Linked DNA regions of Homo sapiens: regions 2 and 3 are each linked to region 1. The links come from fine-mapping of genetic effects on gene expression. A gene starts in region 1. Each other region holds a variant in brackets. All regions are shown on one strand. Distances are from middle to middle.

Evidence for each region. PIP is the estimated chance that this variant, and not a neighbour inherited with it, causes the effect.
Region 2: its variant is the best candidate, but not a certain one, in a credible set for the expression of PCED1A in whole blood (TOPMed, PIP 0.76).
Region 3: its variant is the best candidate, but not a certain one, in a credible set for the expression of PCED1A in whole blood (INTERVAL, PIP 0.82).

The regions. Positions count from the first base shown.
Region 1 is chr20:2,836,360-2,842,718 of GRCh38, reverse strand. It overlaps PCED1A (PC-esterase domain containing 1A), which reads left to right and starts at 2,064. Exons shown (of 8, transcript NM_022760.6): 1 at 2,064-2,508; 2 at 2,786-2,930; 3 at 3,448-3,527; 4 at 3,637-3,875; 5 at 3,973-4,123; 6 at 4,241-4,487. The coding sequence starts at 2,807. VPS16 (VPS16 core subunit of CORVET and HOPS complexes) reads right to left here and starts at 1,974. Exons shown (of 24, transcript NM_022575.4): 1 at 1,892-1,974. The coding sequence starts at 1,944. RefSeq lists enhancers at 1,166-1,697, 2,231-2,762, 4,239-4,538.
Region 2 is chr20:2,892,498-2,899,111 of GRCh38, reverse strand. The region is part of intron 1 of PTPRA (protein tyrosine phosphatase receptor type A); the gene reads right to left. Among named protein-coding and RNA genes, the nearest start is that of PTPRA, 22 kb to the right of the region's middle. The variant G/C (reference allele first, on the strand shown) is at 3,659.
Region 3 is chr20:3,028,215-3,034,828 of GRCh38, reverse strand. All of the region lies in intron 20 of PTPRA (protein tyrosine phosphatase receptor type A), which reads right to left. Among named protein-coding and RNA genes, the nearest start is that of GNRH2, 12 kb to the left of the region's middle. The variant G/AACAG (reference allele first, on the strand shown) is at 3,056.

The DNA.
Region 1 (6,359 bases):
TGTCTATCTATATATAGATACATCTAGATGTATCTATATATATATAGATACATCTATATATCTATCTATATCTATCTATCTATAGATAGATATAGATAGATATATCTATATATAGACGGAGTCTCACTCTGTTGCCTGGACTAGAATGCAATGACGCTATCTTGGCTCACTGCAACCTCCGCCTCCCAGGTTCAAGCGATTCTCCTGCCTCAGCCTCCCAAGTAGCTGGGATTACAAGCACCTGCCATTATGCCTGGCTAATTTTTGTAGAGACAGGGTTTGACCATGTTGGTTAGGCTGGTCTCAAACTCCTGGCCTCAGGTGATTCACCCACCTTGGCCTCCCAAAGTGCTGGGATTACAGGCATGAGCCACTGCGCCTGGCCTAAAATAATATTTTTAATTTTTCAGAGGGAGTATGCTATGTTGCCCAGGCTGGAGTGCAGTGGTTATTCACAGGTTCTAACATCGGTCCCTACACCCTCAAACTTCTGGGCTCCAGTGATCCTCCTAACTCAGCCTCTCCAGTACCTGGGACTATAGGAACATGCCACAAAGCTCGGCCCAGTAAAATATTTTTAAAAAACTTTAATGGGCAATTATTACATAGCAAGCACTGTTCTAAATATGCACTGGTGATAAAGAGAAGCAAGAAACATGCTTTTGGCCGGGCTCAGTGGTTCACGCCTGTAATCCCAGTACTTTGGGAGGCCAAGGTGGATAGATTGCTTAAGGTCAGAAGTTCAAGACCAGCCTGGCCACCATGGTGAAACCTCACCTCTAGCAAAAAATACAAAAATTAGCCGGGCGTGGTGACAGGGGCCTGCAGTCTCAGCCACTCGGGAGGCTGAGGCAGGAGAATCCCTTGAACCCGGGAGGCGGAGGTTGCAGTGAGCCGAGTGCCCCTGCACTCCAGCCTGGGCAACAGAGGAAGACTCTGTCAAAAAAAAAAAAAATGCTTTCAGCCCTGAAGGAGCCTGGTTTAGCAGAAGAAACCTATACAAATGTCGCCTAAATATACAAATAGACCATACCTAAAAGACCCTAGCACTGGGCCCAGTGAGGCCCACAGGATTCTATTGGGGGAGAATCAGGCACAGTTCCAGAAAGAACCCTTGAACTACTAAGTCCTGAAGGATGCGCAAAATTCTTCAGTGAGATAAAGAGAGAAATGGCAGTATCCACAGAAACTGCAGACTGGTTAGGGCCTTGTAATTCTGCGCAGCTGGAACGCAAGATTTGGGTAGGAGAGCGGTAGATGAGGTTGGAGAGACAAACGGGCTGCCTTACAGATAGACGTTCCACGAGAAGTTCGTAGTTTTTCCTATTAGGGAAGCTATGGGAAAATCCTAATCTGGGTAACGATGTAACGGGTTTACACTTTAGAAAAATCCGTGGTTTAGGACTCTACAACTCCCATGGGCGGGCTGCCCTAACCCAGGGGTTCCCACTTCCGCTGTTCCGGGATTCACGGACGACTCGCCCCCTTTTCCCAGCCTTGGTCAGCACTGTTACCCCGCCCGCCGTGCGATCCCGCCCCCCTCGGAGCGCCCCTGTGGTCTGACTTCAGCAGCACTTTCCGGCAGGAGACTGGGCACTCGCTGTCACCCGCGAGCTGCCTCCCTCAGCGAGATCTGAGCATCTTTCCGGAGGCTAACAGACCTGGGCTTCGGGGTGACCACTGTGCTTGCCTCAGTTTCCTTTTCTGGAGCAGGGGAAGGCCCGGCTCCCTGCCCAAAGGCGGCTGTGCGCTAAGTGGCAGACGCTCGGGGAGAGCCGGCGCGGGGCGGACCCCAGCGCCAGTAGTGACAGGGGCGAACGCCGCCGGGAGACTCCAGCCGGCGGGCGAGCAGGGTAAGCCAGGCCGTGGGCGGGAGGGCGGGGCAGCTCACCGGTAAAAGGCAGAGTCCCCGAGTGGGTTCCAGTTCGCCGTGTAGCAGTCCATGGCTGGTGCAGACGGCAGCTGGGAAGCACCGAGGGGACACCCACCTAGAGCGGGCTCCAGGCCGGCACTTCCGCTTCCGCCCGTCCGGGTCACGTGGCGAGGCCGCCGCCGCGGCCATCACCACTGTGGGCAGCCTCACTTGGCTGCCGCCCCGAGACCCCAGCCCGTACCTGGGCTTCGCGCCCGCCAAGTGGGCCCAGCCCTGGCTCCTGCGCCCTGTGGCGGCCACCTCCATCGCCTTGCTTTCCCTTCGGGCACTGGGGGTCGCTCAGGGCGGGACATGGGTGAACGGAAGTGGAAGCTGTGAGCGTCGCAGCCCGAGGCGCCGAGGCCTGAGGCGCCGTCGGGGCCACAGCGACGCTCGCATGGAGAGCGCTGGGCGCTGGGCTGTGCACCGACGGCTAACCTGGACCCACGGTCTCTGCGGGGCGGGAGCTTTGCAGAACCGACTGGCCGACTGGGGCGCGGGAACATGAGGCTTGGCTAGGAGCCCGCTGCGGGCCAGGCGCGCGGTGCGCAGGCATACCCGGGTCGCGGGTGAACACCGCGGAGCCCCGGGACTTGGTAATTGGCGCGAGCGGGTGCGCGCATGCGCGGGACGGCGGCGGGCACGTGGCGAGGCGCAGGGCGGCGCCGCGCGGGAAGCTCCCCAGTGCCCTGGAGGCCTGCTGGCTGGACGACCCCCTGCCTCTGGTACCAAGTGTGACCAAGGCTGGCGCCACCATGGCTCTGCTGCCGTCACCTCCTCCCTTTAGCATTGAGCAGCCCCGGAGGGGCTAGCCCTGAGGCTGACCTGCCCAGAGTCCCCACCATCGCGCTGCTTAGTGGCCTCTCCCTGCAGCCTGTCGTTGCTGGTGGCGGCATGGTCTTCTGTCTGTCGAGCGAGGAGCCGCGCCGCCCGCTGCGAAGCGACATGGTCCACTTCCAGGCCTCGGAAGTCCAGCAGCTGCTACACAACAAGTTCGTGGTCATCTTGGGGGACTCCAGTGAGTGCCTCTTCTAGGGTGACGCTTCCAGTCCCACACCTTGCAGCCCGTTCAGTGTGTCTGGACCATTTGTTTCCATCTCACATCTCTTGTCTGTCTTCTGGTCTGTTCCGTCCAGTAGGTTTTCTCTTTTTATGTCCCACACATCTTCCACAGGAGTCCTGACAGGTGTAATAACCTGTGCACTTTTTAGCCCATCCTTGCTCAGCATTTCTCGCCCTGACAGCTCCCCATAATTTCCATCACGAAAGCGTTGCATTGTGTAGTGTGTCTCCTGGGTGACTTGGCCGACTTAATTTCTGCCAGGTGATCTTGGGTCACTGTATACTGCTGGCCAGGAGGCACACAGAACAGAGGCAATGCCAGGACTTTTTAACCTCATCTTTTCTCCTGCGTCTAAGTCAACCACAGAGCTGGTGTCGGGCACCTCAGCCCTGGGAAAATGGGGTCCTGGACTTGGAAGGAGCTGGGGCAGGCTGAGGTCTGCCTCAGCCTTGGGATCTCTGTCTCCTCCCAGTTCAGAGGGCTGTGTACAAGGACCTGGTGCTCTTGCTCCAGAAAGACTCACTGCTCACAGCTGCCCAGCTGAAAGCCAAGGTGAGGGAAGCTTGGTGGCCATGTCAGTGGTGGGTGGGCACAGACCCTGGCCTGGCAGGGTTCTCCTCCCTGGCATGGGTCTGACCAGTAGGGTGGGGGGGGTGGGTAGGGGGAGCTGAGCTTTGAACAGGACCAGCTGGTGGCTGGGGGCCAGCTGGGCGAGCTGCACAACGGGACACAGTATCGTGAGGTCCGCCAGTTCTGCTCGGGCTCTGGCCACCACCTTGTGCGCTTCTACTTCCTCACTCGTGTTTACTCCGAGTACCTTGAGGATGTTCTGGAAGAGCTGACATATGGACCTGCCCCGGACCTGGTGATCATCAACTCCTGCCTCTGGGATCTCTCCAGGTTGGGGCGAGGGAAAGGGGAATACTGGTTGGGGCTGGAAGTACGGCTGAGGCAGTCCACCCTTGTGCTCTTGCCCACCCTGTGTGTTATCCAACAGATATGGTCGCTGCTCAATGGAGAGCTACCGGGAGAACCTGGAGCGGGTGTTTGTGCGCATGGACCAAGTATTGCCAGACTCCTGCCTGCTGGTGTGGAACATGGCGATGCCCCTCGGGGAACGTATCACTGGGGGTTTCCTCCTGCCAGAGGCAAGTGACTGAGGCCCATCAGGACAAGAGATGGGATAGCAGACTGGTAGATAGGACACCCTGCTTTCAGACCCTGCTGCGTTCTGTGGCTCTTAGAGGCTGCACTTTCTCACTTAGCTCCAGCCCCTGGCAGGCTCCCTGCGGCGGGATGTGGTTGAAGGGAACTTCTACAGTGCTACGCTGGCCGGGGACCACTGCTTTGATGTCCTAGACCTCCACTTTCACTTCCGGCATGCAGTACAGCACCGTCATCGGGATGGTGTCCACTGGGACCAGCATGCACACCGCCACCTCTCACACCTGCTTCTGACCCATGTGGCTGACGCCTGGGGCGTGGAGCTGCCCAAGCGTGGCTATCCCCCTGGTGAGCCCTACCATAAGTGGGGGGGTAGTGATGCACTGGGGCCCTCAGAGGACAGGGCTCAGAAACAGAATGGGACACAGCCACTCAAGGGAAGTAGAGGTCCCTTGAAGGACTCCTGTGGCTTCTGCATGCACCTTCCTCAACCCCTGAGGAGGGTTAGATCATCGGAGCAATATTCTTGTCCAAGTTCCAGTTTTCTACAGTCTGGCTGTGTAGTCATTTCTGTGTGCTTGAAGGAGCTTGTACAAGTATTGACCACATAAGGCAGCATGTTGCAAGGGTCCTACCCAACAGATTAACAGGAAAGAAATGGGGCATGGGTGTGAGGAGTGGAAAGACAGGGAGGAAGGGCCATCCAGGCAGTGTGGCAGAAGCAAAGAAGCCCACAGCTGGGGGGTGGGGGTACAGTCAACTGGCAGGGTGTGGAACAGGGATGTTGCATCGGGAAGGCCAGCCTTATGGACTTGGGCTCAATGGACAGTGTTCCATAGGCTTCTTAGTTCAGCCTCAGAGTCCCACTGTGACTGGTGCAGCTTGGTGTAGCTCTCCTCGGGCCCCATCTCTGGGCCTTTGGTGGAGGCTTCTGAGGGCCCCACTCCCCCTTGTTTTGAGGCACTGCTCCCCATCACATCTCAACTGTAACACTCTGCTGCAGAACCTCTGTTTCCATGTCAACACCCTAGTCCCTGCATGCACACAAAGAGGGCACCATGGCTGATTGTCTCCATGGCTGCTTCTCCCCTGCATCGTGTCCTTAAAGGGCAAGTTTCCTGCTGCACTTGTTGACGACTCACCCCTTTCAGCCCCAGTGTCTAGCACAATTTCCCTGTACACAGTATCAACAGAATTGTATTTGTTGAATGGGAGGCACGAGTCATGTTAGAAGGCCGATTATGGCAGCACAAGAGGATGTGGGGGCACAGAGAGTCCAGGAATATCATAGAGACAGACCTGTAACACTTGGTAGCCAGGAGTTGGAGCATCAGGGAGGTGAATACAGATTTTGGTTAAACATCCCCATTTTCTTGTTTAGATGTAATAATTGATCCCCAGCAAATGATGGGATGCCCTGAAGGTTGTAAGGCTAGTTTTGATGGCTTAGGCCTTTGAAATCCAATTTGGAGCTACAGAAGTTAGGGCCATGAAAAGGGAGAGTTGATTTGGGGTGGAAGGATGAGTTGGTGAGTTTGGTCACAGCAGATTGATTTGAGGTTCTTTGGAAATACAGAGTAGATTTGCAGTCATTGGTACCCAGCAGAGAGATTAAAACTGAGGGCACAGTGGCAGCTGTGAGGGAGACAGAACGATGCTCATGCTTTGGATTGGCAGGAAAGAGGGGCTATGGCGGAAACAAAAGGAGATGAGGGCAGGGGCACTTTTAGGAAGGACTGAGGCTGCTGGCAGTGTCACATGACTGTTGAGAAGAAGGGAATTTGTTAGCAAGTGGTTACATTTAGTAGGAAAAGTGTTGAGGGCATGGGTTTGGATTAAAGGAGGGAGTGAGCAATTGAGGAGGAAGTGGAAATTGGGCAAAACATTCCTTTTGGAAGTTTGGATGGTAAAAGGAAGTTGTTGGGGAAGGGAATAACAGGATCTTTATGTTTGGCTTATTTACTGGTCTATGGGGAGGAGGTGGGCGAGGAAAAAGCTAGATACAAGACCTGGGCAAACAAAGAAGGCTCTGGAGGGAAGTGTAGGTTAGAACAAAGGTAAGTCTGAGAGGTAAGAGAGAAGGAACACACTTTGGGCTTGGCCTGAAATGAGAGGGAATGAGGAAAACTGGGTAGAGGGCAAGGATGCTCCAGCCTGGTGGCTCTGCTCTCCAAGAGGAAGGAATAGAGCTTTAGAAGTGTGGATGGCCAGAGTTCAGGG
Region 2 (6,614 bases), 56 kb before region 1:
CTGCCAGCCTTGCCTGCCTCAGCCTACCAAAGTGCTGGGATTACCTGGTACATTTTAAAACAATATTCTAGTTCTCTCCTCACATAGAGCCTAAAAGGAAGAACACCCCAATAGAAAGAACATATCTAGTAGTGCACATATTTTATTTTCTAAGTACATTCACTAATAAAAGGAACCAGGGTTCCCTGATAAAATTATTGATTCCACGACTGAGATAACAAAAGTAAAGATGAGCCCAGAAATTTTTTTTTTTTGAGACGGAGTCTCGCCCTGTCATCCAGGCTGGAGTGCAGTGGCGCAATCTCAGCTCACTGCAACCTCCGCCTCCCGGGTTCAAGCAATTCTCCTGCCTCAGCCTCCCTAGCAGCTGGGACTACAGGTGTGTGCCACTATGCCCGGCTAATTTTTATATTTTTAGTAGAGACAAGGTTTCACTATGTTGGCCAGGCTGGTCTCGAACTCCAGACCTCAGGTGACCCACCAGCCTCGGCCTCCCAGAGTGCTAGGATTATAGGCGTGAGCCACCTCGCCCAGCCCACAGAAAATCTTATTATTCCAAAAAGTAAGAAAAAAAGTGATCAAAGAATGATGGGGACATGACCAGGCGTGGTGGCTCATGCCTATAATCTCAGCACTTTGGGAAGCCAAGGCGGGCGGATCACCTGAGGTCAGGAGTTCGAGACCAGCCTGACCAACATGGTGAAATCCTGTCTCCACTAAAAATAGAAAAATTGCCAGGCGCGGTGGCTCACGCCTGTAATCCCAGCACTTTGGGAGGCCGAGGTGGGCGGATCACAAGGTCAGGAGATCGAGACCATCCTGGCTAACACAGTGAAACCCCGTCTCTACTAAAAATACAAAAAAATTAGCCGGGCATGGTGGCGCATGCCTGGAGGCTGAGACAGGAGAATGGCGTGAACCCGAGAGGCGGAGCTTGCAGTGAGCCGAGATCGCGCCACTGCACTCCAGCCTGGGCGACGGAGCAAGACTCCGTCTCAAAAAATAAAAAAAATAAAAACAAAAATAGAAAAATTAGCCAGGTGTGGTGGCAGGTGCCTACAATCCCAGCTACTTGGGTGGCTGAGGCAGGAGGATCGCTTGAACCTGGGAGGTGGAGGTTGCAGTGAACAAAGAGCACGCCATTGCACCCCAGCCTGGGCAACAAGAGCAAAACTCTGTCTCAAAAAAAAAAAAAAAAAAAAAAAGAATGATGAGGACATGGAAAAAGGACACAGGAGCCAGCCTGAAAGGGTTCCCACTGGCCAAATTTGGGACAATTTGAATATCAAAAAATACATGAAAAAGGAACAAAATAAGAATCAATGAGGCTGTGCTCATATGTTTAAAAGATTTTTAAACAAACAAAAACAAAGACAAAAACCAGAGAGAGAAAGCTTTTCCTTAGAGTGAAATAGCAAGTGATTGGCTGGGCACGGTGGCTCAAGCCTGTGATCCCAGCACTTTGGGAGGCCAAGGTGGGCAGATCATCTGAGGTCAAGAGTTCAAGACCAGCCTAGCCAACATGGTGAAACCCCATCTCAACTAAAAATACAAAAATTAGTAGGGCATGATGGCGGGTGCCTGTAACCCCAGCTACTTGGGAGGGTGAGGTGGCAGAATCACGTGAACCTGGGAGGCAGAGGTTGCAGTGAGACGAGATCACGCCATTGCACTCCAGCCTGGGTGACAAAGCGAGACTCCGTCTCAAAAAAAAAAAAAAAAAAAAAGAAATGCCAAGTGATGAATTCAGAAGAAATAATGAAATTTTTTAAATTTACCATCTAGCAACCACTATAATAACTGATTCAGGCACAAATCACCAATGGATGGTAAAACTAGCAAGCAAAAATTTGATGAGAAATAAGCTATTTATATAGTCTCAAAGCATCACCCCACAAAATGCATTATTACTTACTAACCAGTAAGTATGAAATACCTCTAAACTAATTTTACAAAAACTTGCCAGCCAACATCTTAACCAAGTGGTAAAATTAAACATAACCAGTAATTGGACAAATTGACATGAACCTCTTGATACGATGCAGTGAGAAGAACATAATATCGTGTCTTTGGTATTCCTGCCACAAATGCATAACCTAAATCTATTCAAAAGGAAACATCAGACTAACCCAAATTGTGGGACTTGCTACAAAATAATTCTCTACTCTTCAAAAATATTAGGATCACTGAAAATAAGGAAAGACTGAGAACTATTCTAGATTAAAAGAGACTGAACAGACATGACAACTAAACGCAAGGCATAATCCTGAATGGTCCCTGAATCAGAAATAAGTGAAGGGGAAAGGGAAGTTTTTCTGCTTTTGTTTTCTTGAGGGAATTTTGTTGGTTTCTGTTGTTTTGTTTTTGCTATAAAAGACATAATTGGAAGATCAGTGAAATTTGAGTAGGGTCTGTGAATCAGATGGCAGTATTATATCAATATTTATTTCCTGATTTTATAGGAGAGTATCCTTGTTTTCAGGAAACACACCCTGATTTATGGGTAATACAGCATTATGTTTGCAACTTATTTCTCAAATGATTCAGAAAAATTACATAGATGGGTGAAGTGAGAAAGAGAAGACGCAATTGTACAACATTAACAACCTGTGGAATCTGGGTAAACTAGGCCAAATGGCAAATAAATACCAACAATTTCCAAAGGACTGAAAGTGCATGTAGGCCGTATTCTTTGCGTGTGTGTGTTTTCGTTTGTTTTTTGTTTTTGTTTTTGAGACGGAGTCTCCCTCTGTTGCACAGGCTGGATTGCAGTGGCACTATCTCGGCTCACTGCAACCTCCACCTCCCGGGTTCAAGCGATTCTCCTGCCTCAGCCTCCCTAGTAGCTGGGATTACAGGCACCCACCACCATGCCCGGCTAAATTTTTTTTGTATTTTTAGTAGAGACAGGGTTTCACCATGTTGGCCAGGCTGGTCTTGAACTCATGACCTCAAGTGATCCCCCTGCCTCAGCCTCCCAAAGTGCTGGGATTACAGGTGTGAGCCACCGTGCCCAGCCTATAGACCATATTCTTTAACCACAATGTATAATCTATAAATCCGTTACAAAAAGATAACTAGAAAAAACCTATTTGAAAATAAGAGACACTTATAAATACATACAGATCAAAGAAAAAAACAGAATGAAAATCAGAAAATAGCCTGATCTCTTATTGAAAAAACTGAACCAAAATATCGGTAATTTGACTCCATCAACACATAACATAAAAAAGACATTGTACATCATGATCAAGTTGTGCTGAACATTAAAAATTGGTTAATAAGCCGGGTGCGGTAGCTCACACCTGTAATCCCAGCACTTTGGAAGGCCAAGGCAGGTGGATCACTTGAGGCAGGAGTTCGAGAACAGCCTGGCCAAGATGGGGAAACCCCATCTCCACTAAAACTTCAAAAATTAGCCAGACTAATTCCAGGTGTTTGGTGGTGCACATCTGTAATCCCAGCTACTTGGGAGGCTGAGGCACGAGAATTGCTTGAACGCAGGAGGCTAAGTTTGCAGTGAGCCAGGATCGTGCCATTGCACTCCAGCCTGGGTGACAGAGCAACACTCTGTCTCAAAAAAAATAAAATAAAATAAAATACAGTTATCAATACTACAGTTGTCATGACAATCTTAAAATGAGGAAAATCAATCCCT[G/C]ATCTGGAAGAGTTCAGGAGCCTTCAGCAATTACGTGATATTTCAGCTGGGTCTAAAAGAATATGTAGTAGGCTGGGTGTGGTGGCTCACACCTGTAATCCCAGCACTTATGCACTTTGGGAGGCTGAGGTGGGTGGATCACTTGAGGTCAGGAGTTCTAGACCAGCCTGGCCAATATGGTGAAGCCCCATCTCTACCAAAAATACAAAAATTAGCTGGGTGTGGTGACGCATGCCTGTAGTCCCAACTACTCAGGAGGCTGAGGCACGAGAATCACTTGAACCTGGGAGGCAGAGGTTGCAGTGAGCCAAGATTATACCACTGCACTCCAGCCTGCTGACAGATCAAGACTCTGTCTAAAATAAATAAATAAATAAATAACAAGTAATAGTATAGTTATTTAGGCTTTTGTTTAATGAATTCAGTTTCAAAGAGAAAGACAAACTACTTTTTTTTTTTTTTTTTGGGTGAAGGAGTCTCGCTCTGTCGCCCAGGCTGGAGTGCAGTGACGTGATCTCTGCTCACTGCAAGCTCCGCCTCCCGGGTTCACCCCATTCTCCTGTCTCAGCCTCCCGAGTAGCTGGGACTACAGGCGCCCGTCACCACGCCTGGCCAATTTATTTGTATTTTTAGTAGAGACGGGGTTTCACCGTGTTAGCCAAGATGGTCTTGATCTCCTGACCTCGTGATCCACCCGCCTCAGCCTCCCAAAGTGCTGGGATTACAGGCATGAGCCACCAGGCCTGGCTCTCAAACTAAATCTTATACGTACAATCTTTGACAGTCCTTTCACAGTTAAAGTGAAGATCACAAACTGGTAGCACAGTGGGCTAAAAAAAAAAAAATTGGCCAGCACAGTGGCTCATGCCTATAATTCTAGCACCTTGGGAGGCCAAGGCTGGAAGATCACTTGAGCCCGGGAGTTCAAGACCAGCTCAAGCAACACAGCAAGACTCCATCTCTAAAAAAACACAAAAAAACTGAAGTTGAACTCATTTAGACCAGCCTTGGAAACTCCAGTGTGGCACAGGACCCAACAGATTTACTTCTCTCATTCACACTGACTACATAGCCTTGAAAAACGTATTTGGGTTTGGAACCCCTGACTCACTTAATGCCAAAAATAAGCAGGATTATGGGGAGGAGAAGAGAAGGAAGAGGCATTTTCAAAACCTGCTGAGTTTTGAGGGCATTATAGAGGCTGAAAGTTTCTGGTTTTAATGTATTCTCCAGTTTTAAAATCGAAAAGAAAATCTGCAAAACTGGAAGACAAACACTGAACCAAACATTTCTGTATCAATAAACCTCATATAAAATTATTCTGCTGTTTGATTATATAACTATTATGTTCTATGGCAACCTACTGATGAAATACGGGAATACCAAAAATAATTAACTACTTTTTTCCATGTCATTATCTCCACCATATTAAAAAAAACTTTCTTGAAAAAGATGCTATTGTTATTTTAATTACTCACATGAGACTATTTCAAATTCTTAACTTTAGTTCTAGTAGAATGCTTATATATTTAATATCTGGTATAAATATTAATTATATAGTATAGTCTACTGTATATATATATATCAAAATCTTTGTAGGCAATATATCTGCAAGAAATAAGACACATCTAGAATAGACACACGTAATCTTCAAAAGCAGTGTGTACCATGCTTTTACATACTCTTTGGTCACTGGGTTAGAAGGTCATGTGCCAAGAAGGAAATGGTTCTGGGCTGTCCTTCAAAAGGCAGAGTGAAAGATTTCCCAAGTAACATGAAGATTTTCATGAGCCATGGATAAGCAACAATAAATAACCAGCTGACAATAAAAACAGATCCATATACCATTTTGGGGATGAAAATATAGCTAAGGATTAAATGTGATTAAATATATGATATATATGATATACCATATATACATGATGTATCATATAGCTACATAATATATTAAGTACAGCTAAGATTAAATATTTCTAATCTAAACTGTCATCTAAATGTAAGAAATCTCCAGCTGTCTTAAATGTCCAGTTGATGTGCATAACTCCATCTGCCAGCTATGCTATCTGAGGGACACATGGTATTCTTGCTGGAGTCATGTAGTTGATTATACTTTATACTCAGGTCATGTCGTCTCATTTAAAGGGAATACCAGTTCACTCTACAAAGCTATCAACTGTAATCCATAAGTGTAAGATCTTTAGTATGGTTCTATTGGAGTAAATCTCTCATTCCTACTACAAACCAGGCACTGCATTAGCAGCTGGAGATATAAAACTGCAAAACAAACAAGTCCCATAAATCCCTGCCCTCAAAGAGCACCCAGTTTAATTGAGAAACAAACTAATACAACTTTGACATTCAAAGAAATGTTCACAAAAACCAAACCTTTCAAGAGCCGTTGGATACCATTATGATTTATTATACAGAATACAATTAAGACAGAATTGACAGTGAAATTCCTTCAAATCTTCATAAATGTATAAAAACAGAATTAATGCTGGCTTCCTTCTGAATACCATTTTTCACACAGAAAGTCTTAATCCCTTCAGGAGAGCTGTGGCCTATCTAAAGCAGAAAATAAAGACAGAATTAGATGCTAAGTGAGGCTTGGCTCACTGAACAGCTAAACCGAACTTAGTTCTGCTGCCACTAAACTCAACTGGGTAAATAAAGATGCTCCTTGCCCTACAATGGGGCTATATTCCAATATACCCACCATAAACTGAAAATATCGTTTAAGTAGGAAATGCATTTAACACACTTTACCTACCGAATGCCATAGTTAGCCTAGCCTACCTTAAATGTGTTCAGAACACTCACATTAGCATACAGTTGAGCAGAATCACCTGGCAACACAGTACACCATGGAGTATACTCATTTACCCTCCTGATCACATGGCTGACTGGGAGGTGTGGGTCAATGCTTCTGCCCAGCACCATGAGAAATTGTCACACT
Region 3 (6,614 bases), 190 kb before region 1:
TTTGGGGGTAAGATCTGAGATTCTTCACTACTGGCAATTGAAAAATTCTCAACCATACATATAATGTCATTGAAAGATTTGGAAAAAAATTAAGTAGAAAAAGAAATTGTGAATAGTCTCACAGTCCAAATAAAATCATGATTATTAAAGTGTTGAATCAAGAACATGCCCTGGACTAGTGCTTTTCCACCCATGTTCTCTAGAAGCCCTGGGGATGCCTCAGGGATCGGTGCCCTGGGCCTCTCTTCAACCAGAACAGCCAAAAAAAAAAAAAAATTCTCATTAAGGCTCACCTCGATCAGGCATTATATTAGTTTTTATGGCACTGGTGGGTGGAATGGATTTTGCTACCACAGTGCCTTCTCAACACTGCTTTACACAGTGTCTCAGCTGGGATGAAGACTGGGCCTTTAAAACCATCAGAACCATAAGGTCCCCATGGGTGTGAGCCACAGTGTGTGTGTGCTGGAGGAATTGAGCATGATCTCTCAGACAGAAATACATATCAAGTCTAGGGACTAGGTATCAACACTAAGAGTCTCATTTTTTTTTTCTTTTTTGAGAGAGTCTTGCTCTGTCGCCCAGGCTGGAGTGCAGTGGCATGATCTTGACTTACTGCAGCCTCCGCCTCCCAGTTTCAAGTGATTCTCCCACCCCAGACTCCCAAGTAGCTGGGACTACAAGTGTGCGCCACCATGCCTAGCTAATTTTTGTATTTTTAGTAGAGACAGGGTTTCACCATGTCGGCCAGGCTGGTCTCAAACTCTTGACCTCAGGTGATCCACCTGCCTCAGCCTCCCAAAGTGGTAGGATTACACAGGCGTGAGCCACCACATCTGATCAAAAGTCTCTAAATTTTGTATACATGGGCGGATTTTCTCTCAAGATCTCTGGAAGACCAAAGAGGATTTTTTTTTTTTTTTTTTTTGAGATGGAGCTTCACTCTTATTGCCCACGCTGGAGTGCAATGGCGCGATCTTGGCTCACTGCAACCTCCGGCTCCCGGGTTCAAGTGATTCTCCTGCCTCAGCCTCCCCAGTAGCTGAGATTACAGGCATGCATCACCATGCCCGCTAATTTTGTATTTTTAGTAGAGACGGGGTTTCTCCATGTTGGTCAGGCTGGTCTCGAACTCCCGACCTCAGGTGATCCACCCGCCTCGGCCTCCCAAAGTGCTGGGATTACAGGCGTGAGCTGCCGCACCTGGCCTCAAACAGGATTTGTAAGACAAGGAGTGACAATGATTTATATTTTCAAAAGGACCAGCAGCTGCCATTTGAAAAACTAAAAGTGGGTTAGGATGAGAGCAGGAGGACCAGTTGCCAGGCCACTGCAGACGAGGCTGCGCATATGAGTCATGCCCACAGTCCCACGGGCAAGCAGTGAGAGACGAGGGCTTGTTCAGATGACAGCAGTTACGCTGGAGAAAAGTGGGGAGGCTCTGCCTGTATCAGGACTCAGTGGCAGACTGGATGTGAGGGGTGAGGAGAGGGGAGGAAGGAAGGTAACTCCCGGATTTTAGACATGAGCAACTGGGCAGAAGGTGGTACTATTTATTTAGATGGCTAAGAGTGGGGTGGACTGGTGTCGGGGGAAGGAGGAAATCAGGAGCCCACATTGGGAAGGGGGACAGGTGACTGGCCTAGAGACGCAGATTGAGGATCCCTGGCATATGGGTTGTACTTAAAGCCATAGGACTGGCTGAGATCCTGAAGGGCTAGTGTGTCAAAAGAAAACAGAGTGGGCTAGCGCCCGAGTCTAGTATACTCCAATGTTTTAGAGGAGGAGGTCACAAAGAAATAACAAAGGAGCTGCCAGGTTAGTGAGTGGGGTGATGCTACGGAAGTAAGTGTTCTGAGGAAGAGGAGGGAGGTACTGACTCTTTCAAATGCTGCTGTAAGGACAAAAAAAAAAAAATCAGAAAAGAGAAATGACCTTTGGATTTGGCAAGAGGACAGTCACTGGTGATCTTGACTAAAGCAGTCCCAGTGGGGCCAAGCCTGGAAGGAACAGAGCGAACAGAGAACTTGCAGGGAGAAAGCCAACTCTTTTTTTTTTTTTTTTGAGATGGAGTCTCACTCTGCCACCAGGCTGGAATGCAGTGGCGCGATCTTGGCTCATTGCAACCTTCAGCTCCCTGGTTCAAACGATTCTCCTGCCTCAGCCTCCCGAGTAGCTGGGATCACAGGCATGCACCATCGCGCCCAGCTAATTTTTGTATTTTTAGTAGAGATGGGGTTTTGCCATGTTGGCCAGGCTGGTCTCGATCTCCTGACTTTGTGATCCGCCCACCTTGGCCTCCCAAAGTGCTGGGATTACAGGCGTGAGCCACCGCGCCCGGCCGAAAGCCAACTCTTTAAAGGAGTTTTGCTGGGAAGGGGTGCAGAGAAATAGGATAGTAGGTGGAAGGGAAAGTGAGATTAGCAGATTTTTTGTTTTTAAAAGATAGGAAATGTAACATGTATAGGCTGATGAGAGTAGTGGTTAAAGAGGGGAACTGCTGATGGAGGTGGGAGAGAAGATGGTTATAGCAGCAACATCCCTGAGCAGGCAGGACGGAATGGGGCCAAGAGCACAGTGGACAGGTGGATTGAGAGATGCAGAAACCCTTTTCCACTGTAACAAGAGAGAATAGAGTTGGTACAGATTTGAAGAGGCTGGTTGTTTGGGGGTGGGAGGATGACAGTGTTCTTGTCTGATTTCTTGGAGAAGAATGAGGCCAGGTCACAAGCTAAGGTGTGAGTATGATGGGACAGGCAAGAGCAGATGCTGGAGGTTTCAGGAAGAAAAGAAAGAGCAATAGCATTGCTAGGTGGCACCAATTACCTCTATGAGATTTGTGGTCATGAGTTCAGTGTGAGAGCATTTGGCACTGTTTTGTGTTTTTGCCCAGTGATGTTTGCTATATCAGATAGAGGCATATAACTGGGTTTTACTAGAGAGTTTGCTATGAAAGTAAGAAAGCATGAGGGAATAAGGAAAGGTAATAATGACATACCACAAAAACTCAAATCAGAAAACTCAAACGCTCAAAAACAGAACTCAAAAACACACA[G/AACAG]AGTAAGGAGGAAGGTGAGGACATGTTCGGTGTGACTGATGTTGAGAAAGTGGAGGCATCAATAACTCTAAGGACTTGATGAAGACAAAAATGACTGGAATAAAAGAGAATACTGAGGTGGGAGGAAGGAGGCAGTAAACAGGGCGGATGCCTTGTTGAGATTCCAAGGGCAGTGCAGATACAGGGCAGATGGTGACTTGACCATGGGATCAGGTGGCTGAGGAAGCTGAGGAATAGAAAGATTGAGGATAGATGGATCATCCACATGGTGACTGATGCCTCCAAAAGCAGAGTCAGGAACAGGGGCTCAAAAGGAGCAGTAAGCCAGGTGTTAAAGTCATCAGTGGGTGAGGGACAGAAGATGGGGAATGGGGATTCAAGACCAGTAGAAGAAAAGCTGGGGACTGGAGTTTCATCTCAGATTTGTGTGTTCACGTTACGGCCTCTAGATAATAGCATCTTAAAGAAGTGAAACAGGGAAGGTTTTCTGTCTTTTCTCCTACTTTGTCTTTCCACCAGATAGCATGAAGTCTCTTATGTCTTATGTCTCTTATGAGGTCTAAGGCGGACATGGTGATGGGGACACACAGCTTTGTGAAGACTAATGCTATCAGGTTTCACTATGCTTTAGAGAAGCAGGATGAGGCCTAGGGTTGGGCTAGGCCTAGGGTTGACCCAGCATGGGAGTTCCTGGCACTGCTCTGTCTGCCCAGGCTGATGATGGTCCAAGCTGCAGCTGCTGAGGGAACCCAGGCATCCTGGTGGACCCTTTTGATTAAAATAGAGCAGAAGGAGGCCAGGCGCAATGGCTCATGCCTGTAATCTTAGCACTCTGGGAGGCTAAGGCGGGCGGATCACTTGGGGTCAGGAGTTTGAGACCAGCATGGCCAACATGACGAAACCCTGTCTCTACTATGGAAATTAGCTGGGCATGGTAGTGCATGCCTGTAATCCCAGCTACTCGGGAGGCTGAGGTGGGAGAATCACTTGAACCCTGGAGGTGGAGGTTGCAGCGAGCTGAGATTGTGCCACTGCACTCCAGTCTGGTGGACAGAGTGAGACTCCATCTCAAAAAAAAAAAAAAAAAAAAAAAAAAAGCAGAGGGAGATAATTAAAAATTTTTAATTCCTTCGAGATTTTAATTTGTAAGTACAGAATTTATATTATGGGATCGAATTTTTTTCTCTGGGAACTTAATATTGTAGGTGAGGATGGTAGTGTCACTGTATAAGTGTAGGCACCTTTCATTGCATCATTTAGGCTTAGTGCGTTAATTACTTCTGGGAGCTACACTTGACAACATGAATGGAACAGAAAGTGAACTTGGGGGCCAGTGAGGCCTTGTAAAGAACATCACTAACATCCTGTTCCAATCCACTCAGAAGCTTTTGAGGGCAAGCACTACTGTCTGCTTCACTGGCCTAGGAAGACAGAGCATAAGCTACAGTGGAAGGCAGAGGGAGAGGCCTCACTCAACAGGCAGCAGAATTTGTGTGCGCACGACTCTTCTCCCCACCGCCACACACATGAAATGCTTCCTGCCCCCTGCCCTTTACTCTCACTAGGTCCTTTTCAAGGATGGAAGAGCCTGCATCTGACTGGACAGAGGCGGAGATGTTCACTGGGCCACATTTTATCACAGGGCAGTGGGCCGAGATGGTCCTTGTGCTCGTGGTTCCAGCTCTTCGGCCTGCTCTTTGGTCCTGCCCATCACAGATCTGAAGGGCAGGGGTGCAGAAGGAACCACAGGTAGGGCCCTGGTCTGATCTGCAGGTTCCATCACGACTGATCAGAGACGGCAGGAACAGGCACCTAGCTCCTGAGAACACAGTGGCTCATTTCCTAAACAGCTTTTGTTACTCAGGTGTGTGCTTCCTTGAGTGCAAAGCCAAGCACCTTAACCGAACCTCCCACCTCATCAGTATTGTTATTAATGATGATGAAGACACTGGGCGCAGTGGCTCACGCCTGTAATCCCAGCACTTTGGGAGGCTGAGTCAGGCAGATAACCTGAGGTCAGGAGTTTGAGACAAGCCTGGCCAACATGGTGAAACCCCGTGCCTACAAAAATTAGCCAGGCATGATGGTGGGTGTCTTTAATCCCAGTTACTAGGGAGGCTGTGGCAGGAGAATTGCCAGAACCTGGGAGGCAGAGGTTGCAATGAGCCCATATTGTGCCACTGCACTCCAGCCTGGGTGACAGAGACTCCGTCTCAAAAAAAAAAAAAAAAAAGATGATGAAGACCTACAAAGTATGTCTGTTGATTAGGTACATGATACAAGTCTAGGAAGAATAGCTAATGAGTTAAATGACTGATCAAAATTGAAAAAAATGCCGGGCAAGGTGGTTCAAACCTGTAATCCTAGCACTTTGGGTCAACCAGGTGGGTGGATCAATTGAGCCCAGGAGTTCAAGACCAGCCTGGGCAACATGGTGAAACCCTGTCTCTACAAAAAAATACAAAAACTAGCTGGGCATGGTGGCACGTGCCTTTAGTCCTAGCTACTTGGAGGGCTATGTGGGAGGATCACTTGAACCTGGGAGGTTGAGGCTGCAGTGAGCCAAGATCGTGCCACTGCACTCCAGCCTGGGTGACAAAGTGAGACCCTCTCTCAAACAAACAAACAAACAAACAAAACCAAAAAAAAAAAAAAAATCCTGATGTAATGAAACATCAGGGTGAGAAAATATGTGTAAAGCCTTGTACCAAAGTTAACACAAGTACAGATGGGGAACAACTAGTGACTTGAGACAACTAATGTAAAACATACTTTGTATTTTAAATGTTTGACTATAAATTCAATGAGTCATGAGTGGGTGCCATCCTTAATTCCTCCTCACTTCACCCTTTCTGGGACAGCACCCTCTCACCACCCGAGTCCAGGCCACCAGCATTACTGCCACAGCTTTCGCATTTCTAATGAGTCCTTCTCACTGCTGCCAGAGGGATTTTTTAAAAAACACAAATGGGATGTTGTCAAGGGCTCTTCAATTGCTTTAGGAAGACCAAACTCTTCACTGTGGCTTAGAAGGAATTTTCTCACCAGGCCTTGCTAGCTTCTCTCCAGGCCCATTCTCTAGATTCTCATCCCTGCTAAGTGACACCCCAGACATAGTGAACCGCTCATTTGCTGCAATGTGCAACCTCAACAGAAATAATTTTTAAAAGAATAAGCATTGTCAGAACACAGACTGGGTCCCCCCATAATGTGGGGGGTGAGGGAGATATCCCTGAGATTGAATGTGCTTAGTAGAGGCTGTATGATTCTGACTCAGGAACAATATTAGGAGGTTTCCTATACTGAGAGGAAGTTGACCTAGGGGACTGCTAGTGTCCCTTTTTAGTATGAGTTTCCGGACAGCTCTGCTTTTTAATAGACCTGAGGGCTTTTTTCTTTAAAAGATTTCCTTATTACTGAATATTAGACTGTAAGTTTCTTGTTTGTATAATTTCTCAAATTCTACTGCTTTATTTTATGTAGTCAGCAATGAGGCAATCCCTTCTTAGGGACACTCATATTGGGTCCACCTCAGAACCTTGACCTATCTGCCCTGCCT